Homo sapiens: one gene and its partner. The protein of the gene in region 1 interacts with the protein of each later gene in a biochemical or structural test. Each region holds a gene or a part of one and is shown on either strand. Other genes may lie near its edges.

Region 1 (8,598 bases):
ATTAACTACTTAAAAGTTAACAATAGTATAGAAAGCAAAATAAATCAGAGTACACTACCTGGCTCAAAGTGAGTAATAATTCATAGTTATATTGCTGTTTTTTTTTTGTTTGTTTGTTTTTGAGACAGGATATCACTCTGTTGCCCAGGCTGGAGTCCTGGAGTGCAGCCATGGCTTACTGCAGCCTCAACCTCCCAGGCTCAAGCAGATCTTCCCACTTCAGCCTCCCAAGTAGCTGGAACCACAGGCATGTACCACCATGCCTGGTTAATTTCTTTTTTCCTTCTTTCTTGCAGAGATAAGGTCTATAAATGCTGCCCAGGCTGGTCTAGAACTTCTGGCCTCAAGCGATCTTCCCACCTCTACCTCCCAAAATGCTGGGATTATAGGCGTGAGCCACAGAGCCCAGCCTAGTTATAATAATGTTAATACTAAGCATTCGTTTAGCAAAAATTGCTATGATGGAACTATACTGGAAGATTGGAAACAAGAAGGGTAGGTAAAGAACTAAATCCTTACTGTGACAAGAAGTTAAGAGGTATGTCTAAGATGTTGAATTGATGTAAACAGTATAAATATACAATTTAGGAATATACAGTTGGTGGGCGCAGCGGCTCACGCCTATAATCCCAGCACTTTGGGAGGCTGAGGTGGGCAGACCACTATGTCAAGAGATCGAGACCATCCTGGCCAACATGGTGAAGCCCCATCTCTACTAAAAATATAAAAATTAGCTGGGCATGGTGATGCACACCTGTAGTCCCAGGTACTTGGGAGGCAGAGACAGGAGAATCGCTTGAACCCAGGAAGTGGAGGCTGCAGTGAGCCAAGATTGCACCACTGCACTCCAGCCTGGGTGACAGAGCGAGACTCCATCTCAAAAAAAAAAAACAAAAACCAAACAGTTAAATCCCAGAAGTAAAACCTAAAAGTTTACACAGAGAAGCCTGGTTTGGGAGGGGGAAGAGGGACACAGGGAATATGAGTGGTTACTGAGGAGTTGGGCAGCCTATTGCTATTTTTTGGTAGCACTTTTAGTACTATTTGAATTTTAAAACTACATATTACTGTGGTATAAATACAATTTAAAGCTCAAACAAGATTCTGAACTGGCCAAAGCAAATGTCTCAACGGCTCATTCAGTTTTAAATCTCAGAAACTGGAAAAATCCCACCAGTCAATCAGACACCTGGGTTCAGCTCTAGATTTGCTGGTTAACTAACTGGTCAATGTATGCTTGATCACATGACTTAACCACTGTTCCTCCATTTTTTCATCTGTAAAAGTAGGTTATAATCTCTCTCATCTGTGAAAAAGCTCTCTGAGCTACAAATAAGTGGAATTAACCATCCTCTAGCATTCTATAGCTAAATATATTGAGGGCTGGGCAGGGCCAGGCATTCTGATGCTTACGCTAGGGGAAGATCTTTGAACACCTGACTTCCCTGGGAGACCAAGAGCGCCACACAGTGACTTGAAAGGGCCAGGACTGCCCTGTAACATGGATGCCCACAATGCAGGGTCTCTATCCTGCATCCCCTGCCCTGCTAAGGGGAAAAGTCGTTCAGAGCGGGCCACACTGGAAAAAGAGCAGGCCAGGTCCCAACATAGGAATTTATCTCACATCAAACCTCCCAGAAGGTTAATTATAAAAAGGATTTTAATTCTTTGAGGAACTTTTCTTATATGAATTATGTTTTTTAAAAGTAGACAAATTAAACTCTACTTGAGCAAAGAACTGTTTTCAAAGAGGGCACCCCCATAACCAGAATAGGTCCAGAGCAATTCTCAGGCTGCCACCTGGTGGGATAACATTTATGGACAGGAAAAGGAAAGTGATGTACAGAAAAGCAAATGAGGTAGAGAAATAGCTGGATTCCATACAGCCTGGCGTTTGCCTTCTTTGAACAGGGTTTCAAAGGCTGACCACCTGTGACGGCCTGAAAATCAGCTGCTGTGATTGTCTGAGACTCAGGTACTTATAACAGTAGGTTACAGTCTGTTTACACATCTACTTAGGTTACAGTTCACTAAGTACAGAGAAACTTTTAGGCTAAACTTAAAATATTCAAGGAGGCAGCGTTAGGCTATACTTAACACCTACTTAGCACAGGTAACTAGAAGTGGCTAAAACAGAAACGAATTCTTGAATAACTGAGTGAATGCCACACTTAGAAAAGGTTGTTTTATGCAGCTAATTATAGAATCACGGACAAGAACTGAAAGAGTTGCTGCCTGAACTTTCCACTCGAGGTCTGTGTTAGAATTTAGGAAACGCCACCCTGATAAATGACTGCAAAAGACAAGAATGCACCATCCCCAAACATGCCACCCTGGCATATTGATGACTTTGAGCTATAAGTAACAGAACCAAACAACACAGGATAACTTATTCAGCTACCCCTCAACTGCCTAAAATAAAGTATGACTGCTTTTTTTCCTTTTGTTCTTATTATTTTTCGACTCGCCTGTTGTAAACAGAAATTTACACCTATAAAGGAAATTTTCTGTAGTAAATGTATCTGTATCAGGAAGACAGCTGCTTGGGGGCAACTTTTATCGCCTGAGCGCCTCATCGGGATAACAAAGCAACCTTTATTCACCATACATTTCCCCCATCACCCTTCCAAAAGGTCTCCACCACGCCCCAAAAGGCCCACGCCCCTATTCCCTGGCCCTTCTTTGTCTCCCACTTTTGTGGCCCTCTAGTGCACGGGTACATAATTAAAAGTTTTTCTCCTGTTAATCTGTCTTATGACAATTTAATTTGTGGCCCAGCTTAAGAACTTAGAAGGGTAGAGGGAAACCATATTTCCTTCCCCTACATTTGAATCTTCTTTACACCACACTCTCCCGGGTCATTTGGACTCTCCTGGAACCCCCTGGAGCTAGGGAAGCGCAGGGCCTCCCAAGTCAGATTCTGCTTGGTGCCGAGCGGCAGTTGGCTCCCTGAACGCCCCGCCAGGAGGATGGACTTCAAGTCCTTGACCGCGGCGCCCGACATCGGTCGCCCGCACCAGGCTCCTGCCGGGCCCAGCCCCCCTGCCTGCTCGCGGGGGCTCGGAGGACCCGGCCTAGCGCCCACCGCGGCGTCCCGCGCCCCGGGCCCCTGGCTTCAGAAGACTGGCCGCGCGCGGACGGCAGCTCGGGACTCACAAGGACTCCAGGTGCTTGAGCTGCTGCAGCTGCTGCGCGTCGTGTCGCCGCCGCTTCTGCTCCCGACGTCGCTGCAGCTCCTGCTCCGGCGGCTCACGCGGCCGCCGCGCGCCCGCAGCCCCCACGTCCTCGCGCCCAGGCCGGGACGACATGTCAGCCCCCGCAGCGCCGCTCGGGCAACCCCCGCGGCGCGGCTCCGGCGGCGGCGGCGGCGGCGGCGGCAGCCAAGAGAGCACTTCCTCCGCGCGGCGGTCGCGGGGCTTCGCAGCGCCCCCTCCCGCCGCCGCCCCGCAACTCACCCCGGCGGCCCCGAAGTCTCAGCCTCGGCCACCCGATCCCCGCCTCCCCGCGTCGGGCCCCAAGTCAGGGGCTCCGGGTCTCGGGCCCAGCCGCCAGGCGGGCTGCTGCGGGTGGGTGGGGAGCGCCGCCTAGCTGGAGCCGAAGCGGGGCGAGGCGCTAGTTGGGAGCCTGGAGGTTCCCGCCCGGCCACACCCACCTCAGGTATACTAGCAACAGTCACATAGGGATGAGCAGATGAAATGTATTCATAAAAAAATGTTCAAATTAGCCAGGCGTGGTGGCGGGCGCCAGTAGTCCCAGCTACTTGGGTGGCTGAGGCAGGAGAATTGCTTGAACCCAGGAGGCAGAGGTTGCAGTGAGCCGAGATGGTGCCCCTGCACTCCAGTCTGGGCGAAAAAGCGAGATTGTCTCTCAGAAAAAAAAAAAAAAAAGTGTTCAAAAAGTGAAATGTATAAACATATAATTATGTTCGGTAATAGTGTGCACCCAGCTTTATAACTGCGGTCATCTGATATACCATGAGAGACAACCTAACTCTTTTGACAGGATGGGTCACCATGACGTCACCACTGTGCCAGTCACCCGAGGAGCCAAGATCCTGAGAAATTTCATCTTTCACAAATGCAGATGTACAGAAAAGACACTTATTTATTTATCGAGGAAATTTCTACATTTTTGCATATATGTAGAATGCTTACACAGTCACCATTGTAATAATGAGCTTTGATTGAGTCATATTTGCAAAAAATGCATAAAACAAATTTGAACTCTCTAAAAGTCTTTATATAGTTGATGCCTCCAGTATTAGAAATGATGTTAAGATGTAATACATAGCATAGTGAATTGTAAAACATAATGCTGACAATTTACAATAATGAAAAAGCTAAAAGAGAAAATAGAAAAACGAAAGCAAACTAAAAAGAAAATTCAACATAGAAAAAGTGTATTGCAGGGATAGATTATGGGCAATTGCATGGCGATTGTCCACATGAACTGCCCAACTTTTATGATGATTAACATATTTTGAAGTCTTGCATCATGATGAATAGCTTTTTTTTTTTTCTTTTAGGACATGGCTCTCCTCGATGATACAGTCTCATTAATTTTCTATGTGATACTGCTCTTTCCAAAATTCTTTTTAACTTTTTAAAGTTTTTTATTTTGTAGAGACGGGGTCTCGCTATGCTGCTTAGGCTGGCCTTGAACTCCTGGCCTCAAGCAATCCTCCTGCCATAGCCTCCCAAAACACTGGGATTACAGGTGGGAATCACTGCACCTGACTATGAAATTATTTTGTGATTTGATATTCTCTGACTTCTCTTTGTGCTTTCTTTCTGTTGTACCCTCCTGTCCATGAACCCCTCTGTTTTTCATTTTATTCTTCTGCCCCCTCCTAAGACACCAGAGATTCATTCTTGAGGCCAGTCAAGCAGCCTTGGTGTTGGCCCACTGGTGGGGCAGCTGCAGTTGGTCCTTAGTCTGTGCTACTGGACAGGTTTTAAACCTTTCAGAATGGAGCAACTAAAAAAAGAATAGATTTTCTCCTGCTTGTATTGATCACCCTTCACAGTGTAATCTTGACACCATTGTTTTGCTGCTAAGGTGTATTTTTACAAGCTCTTATCTTACCAGTGACCTTTCCCCACTGGGGAGATGAGGAGAGGAAAAAAGTAGGAGAAGGGAAAGATCACATGGCTAGATTAGAGAGTACAATGCAAAATCTTTCTTTTTTTCCTACCCAAAATACAAGTCTTCAAGGAACTCTCATGGTGAAGTGGACCCTCAGGCGTGCATGTCTATGGTCTTCTGCAGCGCAGTAGAAACATGAGAATCCCTTTGGTCATGCACTAAAAACAGCTGTTAAAATTACTTCTAGGGCCAGGCATGGTGGCTTGTGCCTGTTGTCCTAGGTATTTGTGGAGCTTAGGTGGGAGGATTGCATGAACCCAGGAGGTGGAGGCTACAGTGAGCCATGATCGTGTCACTGCACTCCAGCCTGAGTGACAGAGTGAGCCCCTGTCTCAAAAAAAGAAAAATTATTTCTATCCATCAATAGTTGCTAACCAGTAGGATCGGAGGGAAAATTGCAACGTGCTTTACTTTAGGCTTGCAGGTACGAAAGACTGAGGGAGGAAGGTCAGACACCAAACTTAATTGGTATTCTGGGGCAAATATTTGGCAACTGAGTTGACATTTCTCCTTCTCTTCCTTGCTACCAGCTTTGATTTTGTTCAGGAATCATACAGGAAGCTGGTTAGAGAGTGGAGGCCTCTTCATGCCTCTCTAGAGGTGAGTCTTGACTTGTCTTAAGCCAGTCATTAGTAATTTTGTTCTCGTTTCCACTGATTGTTTTAGCAATGGACCTGTGGTGCAATTTTAGCCAATGAGGTATGAGGAGAGGTCGGATGGAGGTGGCTTTCAGGGTAAGGTTGTCTTTGCTCTTAATAAATGATGCTTGGGAGTGTCAAAGATCCCCTTTCTGCCTCCAGATGTTGTTGCCTGCAACCCCCAGAGGATGGCAGAGGACAGAAGGAGACCCCTGGGTCCTTGGGGATGTGATAGAGACATTTGATCAACCAGTCCTGGTGTTGCTACCTATCCATACTTCTCATTCTGGGAGATAGTACATTTCTTTATTATTGAAGTGATTTTGAGTTGGGTCTTCTATTACTCACAGATAAATATGATTCTTTACATTTATATAGTGCCATGCAGATCTCCCCCTGCCCCCATATGTTCTCCCAGTTGATTTTACAGAAACCCTATGGGGGCATGCAAGACAATGTAAGATAAGGAAATTGAGGCTCAGAAGGAGAGTGTGGCCCTGCAACCAAAATGGTCTGATTTCTAGTCCAGAGTTTTTCATCAACCCTCATGAATTTAGGTGTGTGGGAATAGTGGGAGTGGGAGAATCTCTTGGAAACCCTTGGAGAATCTCTTGGTAAAGAAGAGGATAGGAAGCTGCTGGAAACAAATTTCCCTGATGTCCCATTGGCCTCAAATCGGCTCAGATGGACTTTTGGGGATGTTTTTTCATTCAATTTATTTATTTAATAATTAAAAACAATACAGATGGGGCCCTGCTATGTTGATGGGGGTGAGGAGGTATTTTTCCTCAGCTGGCCTTTTCCCTCCCCTCCCCTCCCCTTCCCTTCATTTTTTTGAGACAGGGTCTCACTCTATTGGCCAGGCTGGAGTGCAGTGGTACGATCTCTGCTCACTGCAACCTCCGCCTCCCAGGTTCAAGGGACTCTCGTGTCTCAGCCTTTCAGGTAGCTGGGACCACAGGCGTGCGCCACCACGCTGGGCTAATTTTTGTATTTTTAGCAGAGACGGGGTTTCACCATGTTGGCCAGGCTAGTCTCGAACTCCTGACCTCAACTGATCTGACTAAGGCTGGTCATTTCTTTAGCCATCCTGTGTGTGCCAAGCAAAAGTTAACAACTGGCATAGCTTAGCCTCCAGGGTTTACTGTTCTCAAAACCACAGTAGTTTTCTGATTCACAAAACTGCCTTTATTTCAGACTCAATGAAAGGTGGAAACCTTTTTTTTAGGGCCTGGCCTTAGTGGATTACGTTGGATTTTACCATTAACACTTGAGGTTCCTGTACTGTCTGAGGGGCATTTGACAGAACCTGGTTTACTGACTTTGATTCAGACCAGTCCTTTTTTCAGATCCCTTTCTCCCCGCTCTTCCATGCTGCTTCCCATGCCCACCTTGGCCTCAGATTTTGCTGTTCCTCTCATTGTGTCCTTCTGTCTGATTTTACCACATTTTCTGGTCCCTGCCTCTGCATTCTCTCACTGATTGTTATCTTGTTTTTCTCTCCCTGCCATCTTTCTCTCTCATTTCCCCTCTTTTTCTTATTCCGATAACCTTTCATTCCTTCTAGTCCCTGTCTCACGTTTGTGTGAAAGTTAGTTATACAAATTGGGTAATTTTTGTCATACTCAAGTAAAAGAGAATCAAGGGGTCAGGGGGGAAAAGCACTTGTGGTCACAGGACCTGCTCCAAGAATTAAATTTTCCAGAAGCCCAGCCGCTAAAATGGACTGCTGTAACTCTAAGATCAGTTTTACCTGGTAGCTGCTGAAACGGCCTGCCCTGGCTCTGCGACTGGTTTTAACTGCTGCAGTCACTCGTCTATCAGAGCTTGCCGGCTCCCAAAAGCTTGTTTAGTGCCAATGAGCTTCCTTCCTTCCTTCCTTCCTGCCTCCCTCCTTCTCTCCCTCTCTCCCTCCCTTTCTCTCTCCTTTCTTTCCTTCCTTTCCTTTTTTTGACAGAGTCTCACTCTGTCACCAGGCTGGAGTGCAGTGGCGCAATCTTGGCTCACTGCAACCTCTGCCTCTTGGGTTAAAGTGATTCTCTTGCCCCAGCCTCCCGAGTAGCTGGGACTACAGGCGCGTGTCACCATGCCCAGCTAATTTTTGTGTTTTTTGTAGAGATGGGGTTTTACCATGTTGGCCAGGCTGGTCTTGAACTCCTGACCTCGTGATCCGCCTGCCTCAGGCTCCCAAAGTGCTGGGATTACAGATGTGAGCCACCACGCCCGGCCTGAGATTTCTTTCAAAACACTACATAACATTTGTCTTTCTTTCTTATTTATTTATTTTTTAATTATTTATTTATTTTTATTTTTTTGAGATGGAGTCTTGCTCTGTTGCCCAGGCTGGAGTGCAGTGGCGCAATCTCGGCTCACTGCAAGCTCTGCCTCCCAGGTTCACGCCATTCTCCTGCCTCAGCCTCCCGAGTAGCTGGGACTACAGGCGACCCGCTACCAAGCCCGGCTCATTTTCTGTGTTTTTAGTAGGGACGGGGTTTCACCGTATTAGCCAGGGTGGTCTGGATCTCCTGACCTCGTGATCTGCCCGCCTCAGCCTCCCAAAGTTCTGGGATTACATGCATGAGACACCATGCCTGGTCAACATTTCTCTTTCTGATAAAACTTTCAACCTTCTCTTTGTTCATCTCACATACCAAAGACCACCTGGTCTATGTGTATGCCCCGAATTGTGATTATTGCTTCCCTAATAAAACGTTTTAACCTTAGAGATTCATCTGTCTATAATATTTGACTTAAACATACTTGGTGTCAGAAGCATGGATCCAAAGCTGCCTTGCCTTGGGGAAAATCCCAGCCT
Region 2 (7,903 bases), on another chromosome or scaffold:
AGACAGAAGGTGACGTAAGGTGGTTCCTAAGGTGGGTTCGGTCAGTCCCCTAATAGTTTGTTTTCAGTGTATTGAGACCAGGAGAATTGATTTACTTCAGACCTATTTTTTGAAACTCCCTGTTGGTCTGGTGTCATGCGTTTAGAGAGACTCTGAACTTCGTTTTCTGTTTTCCTTAGATAATGATAGCACTTCATGAGCACCATATGTGAAGCACACATACGTTCTGTCTGACTCTCAGAACAGTGCCACATTGGCATTGTCATCATTTACAGATGACATCTGAGAGCTAGGGTGACTTGCCCAAGCCCAAGCAGCTGGTAGCAGAGTTGGGATCTTAACCCTCACCACACCGGTGTTTTCAAGAGAGAACTTGGTCGTGGAGAACTGGAGAACAGATACTGCCTAAGTTACATTTAGTTTTAGACTAATTTAATACTCCATTTAAGAAACAAACAGAACAGCTGTGCAGTTAGGAAAGTGGAGGGGATTTGAATGAGGAGGAGGCGGGTTAGAGTTAGAACCGTCTTTGCTGAACAAGTAGTGTGTTTGCAGAAAGGGAAGTTGAAGTTACGTTGTCCTAAAATACAGCAAGGAAGAGGAGGTGCTTAATACCACGGAAAAAAGTCTGTGTCATGTTTCTGTGAGGTTAAAAGTAATTTGATAGTGTATGTCATGCTGCTGACATATTCCATGTGTTTGATATCTTCCCAGCAAAATAATCAGCTCTCATTTTCCCTTACAGAGTCAACTGTTCATTTTATTTCAAAATTGGAGCATGTCGTCATGGAGACAGGTGCTCTCGGTTGCACAATAAACCGACGTTTAGCCAGGTTTGTTTGCCTTTTTTTCATGTAAATTATAAAAACTTCATGTTCTTTTCAAAGACAGTTAATTTCTACATATTAAGCAAGTCATTTTTTCTCTCGTAGTTGTATTTTCCATTTGTGTTCATAAGTGTGTTCTTTTATTTAAATAATAGTGAGGCAGGTGATCGACTTCCAGTGGAAGGTCTGAGACCACCACTCCTTGTTTTTATCATTAGAGAAACTTTAAAAATCAGTTTTTGATGTTTGTGTGTTGGCTGTGCCTGATATTTGCTGCCCTGCCATCTTCCCTACCCCCTCTGATAGACATGGGTCCAGAGGGGGTGGCCGTGCCAGCCTTGGGTTAGCCTCCTCCAGGCACCAGTGGACACGGAGTGGGCTTTCTGCTCTTTGCTGTCTCCAGACAGTAGAGGTGATGGAGCCACCTTCCAAGTTAGCGTGATTGTCACCAGGCCCATCATGCTGCTCGAGCTTCTCTGGCTGCGTCCTCACTTTCACATCCCTAGCTGAGGAAACAGCGAGTCGCATCACGTCATGGAAACATGAAAAATTAAGCTGAAAGGTAGAAAATGGGCCGTAAATTGCTCTTAGCGGGTCTGTTTGGTTAATTGAGGAGTGCCTGTTATCTTGGGCTTAGATCCGCTCTGAGTTCAGTTCAATCAAAAGTTGTGAGTTTTGATAGTTTTATTTTTGGTTAGTTGAAGAAAAGGCAAAGGTTGGTACACTATAAAGGATCACTTACGGATTAAAGGGAGAAGGCACCTCTAATCGGAGCAGAAAACTTGTGCCCACGTTGATGAGAACATTTGAAATTTGAAAATCGATGCCCAAGTCTTTCCAGATGGAGGGCTGGGGAACTCCTTCCAACCCACCCTTGAAGTCTAAATGTGCAGCCTCTGAGCTGTTGAGTAGCTATTATGCGTGGTCCCTGGGAGCTGCCAGGCTCTGCCTTTGAGCTCACATCTGTCTGTATACGTTTTCCTGTAAGCATTTAAGAAAATCTACCACTTTGTGTAAGTGAGCTGGGAGAAGGAAACATGGGTTTTTTCCGGTTGAAGCCCATGGACGACCCCACAGCACACAGTGTTTTTAGAAGGGAAGAGGATGATGGCTTTTCCCTCCATTATGCTAATTACCAAGTGGTTAGTATAATAGCAGTCTGTCTTTTGATAGCTCTGAACATGAGTTTCTTTTTACAAATTTCAAAATCTTGGAGAACTAGCTTTACATTTTCTGTGTATTGCAATTGTTTTTTCTTTAATGTTTTGATTTATGAACCGAATCTCCCCTAACTAAACCAGTGGCCATGGATTGTGGTATAACCAAGCATCTTAAGTGACCACCCAGTTCTTTGATTTTGGGGGGTGTCCCAAGTGTTGGGCTGAGAGAAATCAACTGTTCCCTATTCTAAAAGTTTTCTTTAATCTGGCTGGAGGCACTTTCTTTATGTTTTTCTGGATCATAGATTACCTGAGAATGTGAAATGTGAAGTTAATTTAGGCATTCCAGGTCAGTGCTGGGGAGAGCCCATTGGAGCTCGATGGGGTCAGTAGTATGTGTCAGCTTAAGCATCCTAGTTTGATGCGTGGGTTTGTTTTGGTTGGTTTTAGGCAATCCTAGCCACCCTTGGCTTTCCCATTAGACTGCATTGCCTCTTTACGTTAAGCTTCCTTCATTAAATAGCCACTGCCAGAATACCTGAGTGAGACCAACTGAATTTTACTGTTGAATAATTGGGCTCAGTTTAGCTTTTCATCAGGGTTGTCATGGTACGGTCATTTCAGTTCAAAGCTGAGTCAAGTCAGCTTTGGGAAGCCTCCCAGGCCTGAGTTCAGTTGACTCAGGGCTGTACTTGGCGGCTTATGGAAGAAACGGGGCCCTGATGCAGGTCTGAGTGGTTCAGTGTGGACAGTTTGTCAGACCTCCCTCTTAGGTGGGGTGGGCTTCCCAGCTGCACACCTTTGACTGAGGAACTCTTCATACAACCACTCCCCTTTAAACAGAGCTAGAAATGGAGCTGGCTGGTTTTATAAAACCACCACTTACAAAACTGCTTCACGTGGATATTGTTGAGACTAAACATTTATTTTTCTAAATCATGCGAGTGATTGCTTTAGCTTGTAAATCTCTAGCATAATTCAGGGTGGGTTTCTTTATAAGCTGCTTACAGTGATATGGACGTTAAGATTCATGTAATATATTAGCCTACTAACTTAAACATGGTTTGTTTTTTCAGACAACTTGATTTTAAGAAGAACGGTACAGTGTAAGGTTTCAAGTCTGCCTGATCCAGTTTAAAGCACAAGGGCTAAAAGGATTTTTTTTCCTTAAAAGAAGGATCGGAAAAGAGCAAATGTTTTAAGCTATTGTATTATGTAAACAGAGATCCCACCAAGAAAGTGTAAATCAGAGCCGGGTGTCCATGACAGTTGACAGACCTGTTTGGTGTGCCTGTTTTGCTAGGAGACCAGAGAACTTGATGTACTGCAGACAGCTGAGTTACGCATTTGGTTTTGAAAAATTATCTTGTGTGAGGAATATGATTATAACGTGAATTTTTCCACATCTTGGTGTCTGCTAGCTTGAAGTACAAGAAAATATTAGTATTCTACTATTTATCTTGCATTAAAACACTTTAACATTGAAAACGTGGGACTAATCAAAACAATACAGTTTCTTCTTGGTTGCTGGCTGACTTGACCCAAGTCACTGCTCAAACTCTGTTTTCATAATATGATGGTTTTGGTGTACTCTTCAGAAGACAAATGTCTGACTTGCGGGAAAAAAACAAACGTTTAGCCATTTGCAAACAAATTGTCTCTTTGCAATTGTCTAATATATGCACAGCAGCCAGTAGAATTCCCCTTTTTATTTTTTTTTCCCCGCAGACCATCTTGATTCAAAACATCTATCGTAATCCCCAAAACAGTGCACAGACGGCTGACGGCTCACACTGTAAGTCCCACAGTTGGAGAAATTTTTTTAAAACAATGGTGTTAAAGAGCCCACTCTTAATTGAGACAAATAATGTTGGCTTCTGAGCTGCTGACATAGAGCTGTTGCAAACAGGACAAGGTGCTGGAACTCCTTGGCGCACACAGCAAGAACTTGATACTTGGCCACGTTCAGGAGGCTTATCCCTTCTAGGGAGGGTCACTGGCCCGGCCACCTCCATTGATTGACATTTGTCATGAGAGCAGGTCCGTCCATGTGAAACGGATTTCAACATTTTGAGCCATTCATTGGTCTTTACAGTGACTGAACCCCTGGCCTTTATTAAGTTCTTTGTGTAAAATTAAAACTCTTAGGAATATTAAGGAATCAATAAGGTAAGTTGCCCAGTAAGTGTGGGTTTTATTTCACCATTATAATTTTTCCTCCAGGAAGTGGAGATTTCATGATATGTAACAATTGTATTTCTCTAATACAGTAATTTTTTCCATCAGTTTATGTAAGCATTATTCTTTCCGAGTTCATTAAAAATTTTCTGCCACATCTAAGAACATTTTGGTGCTAGCCTGGCAAACTATTTGTGCTTTTACCTGAATTGGAATTTTGAAAAGGAGAGTTTTCACGTTCTGTAAGCAGAAGTACAAGATGGGCATATCATGAGACCTCCGTTACACCGCAGTGTTAGGGATTCAAGGCAGCCGCCAACTGAGAAAACGCCTCTGCTTCTCCAGAAAATAACTTGCTCTCTTTTCAGCACTGAATCTCAACTGAAGCACTTGCCAGAGGCAGCCGGTTAAGTGTTTACCTTTAATTTTCCATAATATAAAGTTGTTGCGTTTTGTATTTCAGACCATTGCCCTCTTGAACATTTACCGTAACCCTCAAAACTCTTCCCAGTCTGCTGACGGTTTGCGCTGTAAGTTCATACAAGTTCCTTCCCCGGTTCCCTGGGCTTGCGTGTCAGAGCTCAGTGTCCACTCCATCTGGTCTGCCGTGCTAGTGTCAAGGACCGCGTTTCACTAGAGGTGGCAAGGAGCTTTCGTCCCACTGACCCCATGGAAACCTCTTTTGGAGATTTGAACTCCCACCGTGTGTTAAAAGGGAAAAAGTAACTGGAAAGGGTGCCCTTTAAAACAGTCTAGAGCTGGGCCGGGCGCGGTGGCTCACGCCTGTAATCCCAGCACTTTGGGAGGCCGAGGCGGGTGGATCATGAGGTCAGGAGTTCAAGACCAATCTGGCCAACATGGTGAAACCCCATCTCTACTAAAGATACAAAAATTAGCTGGGCGTGGTGGCAGATGCCTGCAATCCCAGCTTCTAGGGAGGCTGAGGCAGAGAATCGCTTGAACCCGGGAGGCGGAGGTTGCAGTGAACTGAGATCGTGCCGCTGCACTCCAGCCTGGGCGACAGAGTGAGACTCCGTCTCCAAAAAAAAAAAAAAAAACAGTCTGGAGCTGCTGCTGCCCCTTCTTCCTTTACTTTGGCCGTCATCCTAGAGGGAATGTACTGGAATTAAACGTCGAGTCATATTCTTCCCTCTTAGAGCAACAAAATTTGAATGTTTCTCTCACTTTCTGGAATTTTTAAAAAGCAAACTTTTTAAGTTATTTTTTCAGATTTTATTTCTCATTAGCCTTTTTTCCTTGAACTCCATTTTGGAGTGCACCCTGTAGTTGTAAGAGCATTGTGCTGAGAGCGTTCCCCAAATGAGGGTCTGCAGCTTGCACTGACCCCTGAGTTCCTCACCCACCAGCCCCGTGCCGACCCGTCTAACCCGTGTGGGGGTGCTCCACTCAAATAGGCCCTTGGCAGAAAAGATTGTCCGTTCTGTCCACACACTGCCTGGATACAGTCTCCAGCTCTAGGAGATGGAATTGGTTTGCTCCATTTAGAAATAGATCAAAACTGGGCATTCAGTAGATGGTACCAATATCTTCCTGTACTGGGAAATACTAAATTTAGATTGTGAATATTTACCTAATGATAATTTTTAGAGAAGGAGATATCATAGATGAGTATGATTGGGAAGTTCAGAAAACTAAAATTTGATTTTTACAGCCATCCAACTATAGAATCATTAGAATTTAGTCATTTATGGATAAATTAAAATGAACACCTGGACTCTTGTTAAAATCAGAAAGTCCAAACCAAAGATAGGCACTTCCCATTCACCATTCTGTTTTAAAGCAGTAAAAATTGAGGTGCCCTTGGATATCCACAAGCCTAAATTGAGTACACCCTTGAACCAGAGCCCCTCAGTTAATGGGGTGACCGACATGGGGTAGCTGATCCCAGGGGGCATTCCCCTCTCGAGCTGGCCCTGCACTGGGTGGCCTGGGGATTGTGCTTCCTTGCACAGTGGTGCACATTTCTATGTGTGGATGAGATTTTCTTGTCAACTTTTCCTGCCAAGACACTAAATGCTTTTCAGTGCTAATACTGACCTGATAGTAGAGATTTCTTTCCCTGAGTCGGATGGTAGCAGGATTTACTTGGTAACCCTTGGTTTAAAATACCTGTTTTTTTGTTTGTTTGTTTTCTTTTGTTTTTTAAGGAAATAAGATCAATAGGCGGAGGGAAATTGTTTCTATATGCACTTATTAAATAATTTTTGTTAACAACCCTGCCCTGGGATAAAAGTGAATGGAAGTACATGACTGAGTAACAGTAATTAATTCTTTGCCCTGATCGTTTATTTGGGGACTGTATATGCTTTCTTGACTGACAATAGAATGTTGTATTAGTTTTCATTGTGTCTTTATTTGCAGTTCACAGCACTTTTGTTTTGCATATGCTACAAACTAAAAGTTTAGCAATTACGTTATATTCCAATTCTGGAGTCCAGATTGTACAAATTAGATGAAATTCTAATTCGTCATTTTAGGAAGAAATCAATTACCTAAAATTACTGGCTCTTTTCAACATACCCTTTAGTATGTAAAAAAATAAGCTTCAAATGCGTGGGTTAAAGTTAACTATCAATCCCAGTTTAAGAATGATATTTCTGTAAGAAAACTGCTTTATTTTCCAAGTTGTAGTATTTAACATAGGCTGAGTCACAAATAAGTTTTTAATTGTATCTTAATGCAGTTGTCTCTGCCTTTCAAGTCACTTTGATTGAAACATTTTAAGCAGAACAAATATAGCCAATAATTTAAAATAATCACCCCAAAACCATTTCTCAAACCTGCTAAAACTTTGAGCATGTGAATAATTTTCTCCTCTTCACATTCTTCTTATGTGGGAAGGAAGTGAATTTGAAATATTAAAATCTGCCCTTTGGAATAGGCTACTTTGGCCGTTTATAACTTGATTTCTACTCGGGGAGGAAGGTACATTCCCAATAGCTTTCCAATTGGGATATCCTGTGATATGATTGGCAGGCTGTCCGAGTAGTTACACTTAATAAAATTTGGGTTCGAAAGCAGATTCCTGGAAGTTCAAAAATAACTAAAACAGCCCCGGATAGGTTAGAAAGTGAACTTAAATCATTCTCAGAATTAGAAAATAAGAAGTTATTTTTTATCTTCAAAGATAAAAAGGGGGCCGGGCACGGTGGCTCACGCCTGTAATCCCAGCACTTTGGAAAGCCGAGGCAAGTGGATCACGAGGTCGAGAGATTGAGACCATCCTGGCCAACATGGTGGAACCCCGTCTCTACTAAAACTACAAAAATTAGCCAAGATCACGCCATTGCACTCCAGCCTGGAGACAGTGAGACGCCGTCTCAAAAAAAAAAAAAAAAAAGATAAAAAGAGTTTTGAGCAAGCTCAAAGACCCGTGTGCCAGCAGTCAGATGCCCACGTTGGGTGCACAGGCTAAGGCAGCCGGCCCAATCTGGAAACCAGTCAGGCTTTTGCCAGCCCCTAATCTAGCTGATTGGAACATGTTTGTTGATACACCAGCTCTGTGATTTCTCAGGTTTAGAGAACTCTAGAATTTGATAGAGTGGGCCGGGGGCAGTGGCTCATGCCTGTAATCTCAGCACTTTGGGAGGCTGAGGTAAGCAGATCACGTGAGGTCAGGAGGTTGAGACCAGCCTGGCCAACATGGTGAAACCCCGTCTCTACTAAAAATACAAAAATTAGCCAGGCATGGTGGTGCGCGCCTGTAGTCCCACCTAC

What was found.
Region 2: the proteins of RP9 (region 1) and U2AF1 form a complex in vitro, tested with the Homo sapiens proteins (one study listed by BioGRID).

What each region holds. Positions count from the first base shown.
Region 1 is NC_000007.14:33,106,065-33,114,662, forward strand, and holds the start of RP9 (retinitis pigmentosa 9 protein), read right to left. Parts: upstream 3,341-8,598; 5' UTR 3,309-3,340; coding exon 3,157-3,308; intron 1-3,156. UniProt on the Homo sapiens protein: Is thought to be a target protein for the PIM1 kinase. May play some roles in B-cell proliferation in association with PIM1.
Region 2 is NC_000021.9:43,097,245-43,105,147, reverse strand, and holds part of U2AF1 (splicing factor U2AF 35 kDa subunit), read left to right. Parts: intron 1-745; coding exon 746-833; intron 834-3,715; coding exon of another isoform or gene 3,716-3,782; intron 3,783-4,628; coding exon 4,629-4,695; intron 4,696-7,903. UniProt on the Homo sapiens protein: Plays a critical role in both constitutive and enhancer-dependent splicing by mediating protein-protein interactions and protein-RNA interactions required for accurate 3'-splice site selection. Recruits U2 snRNP to the branch point.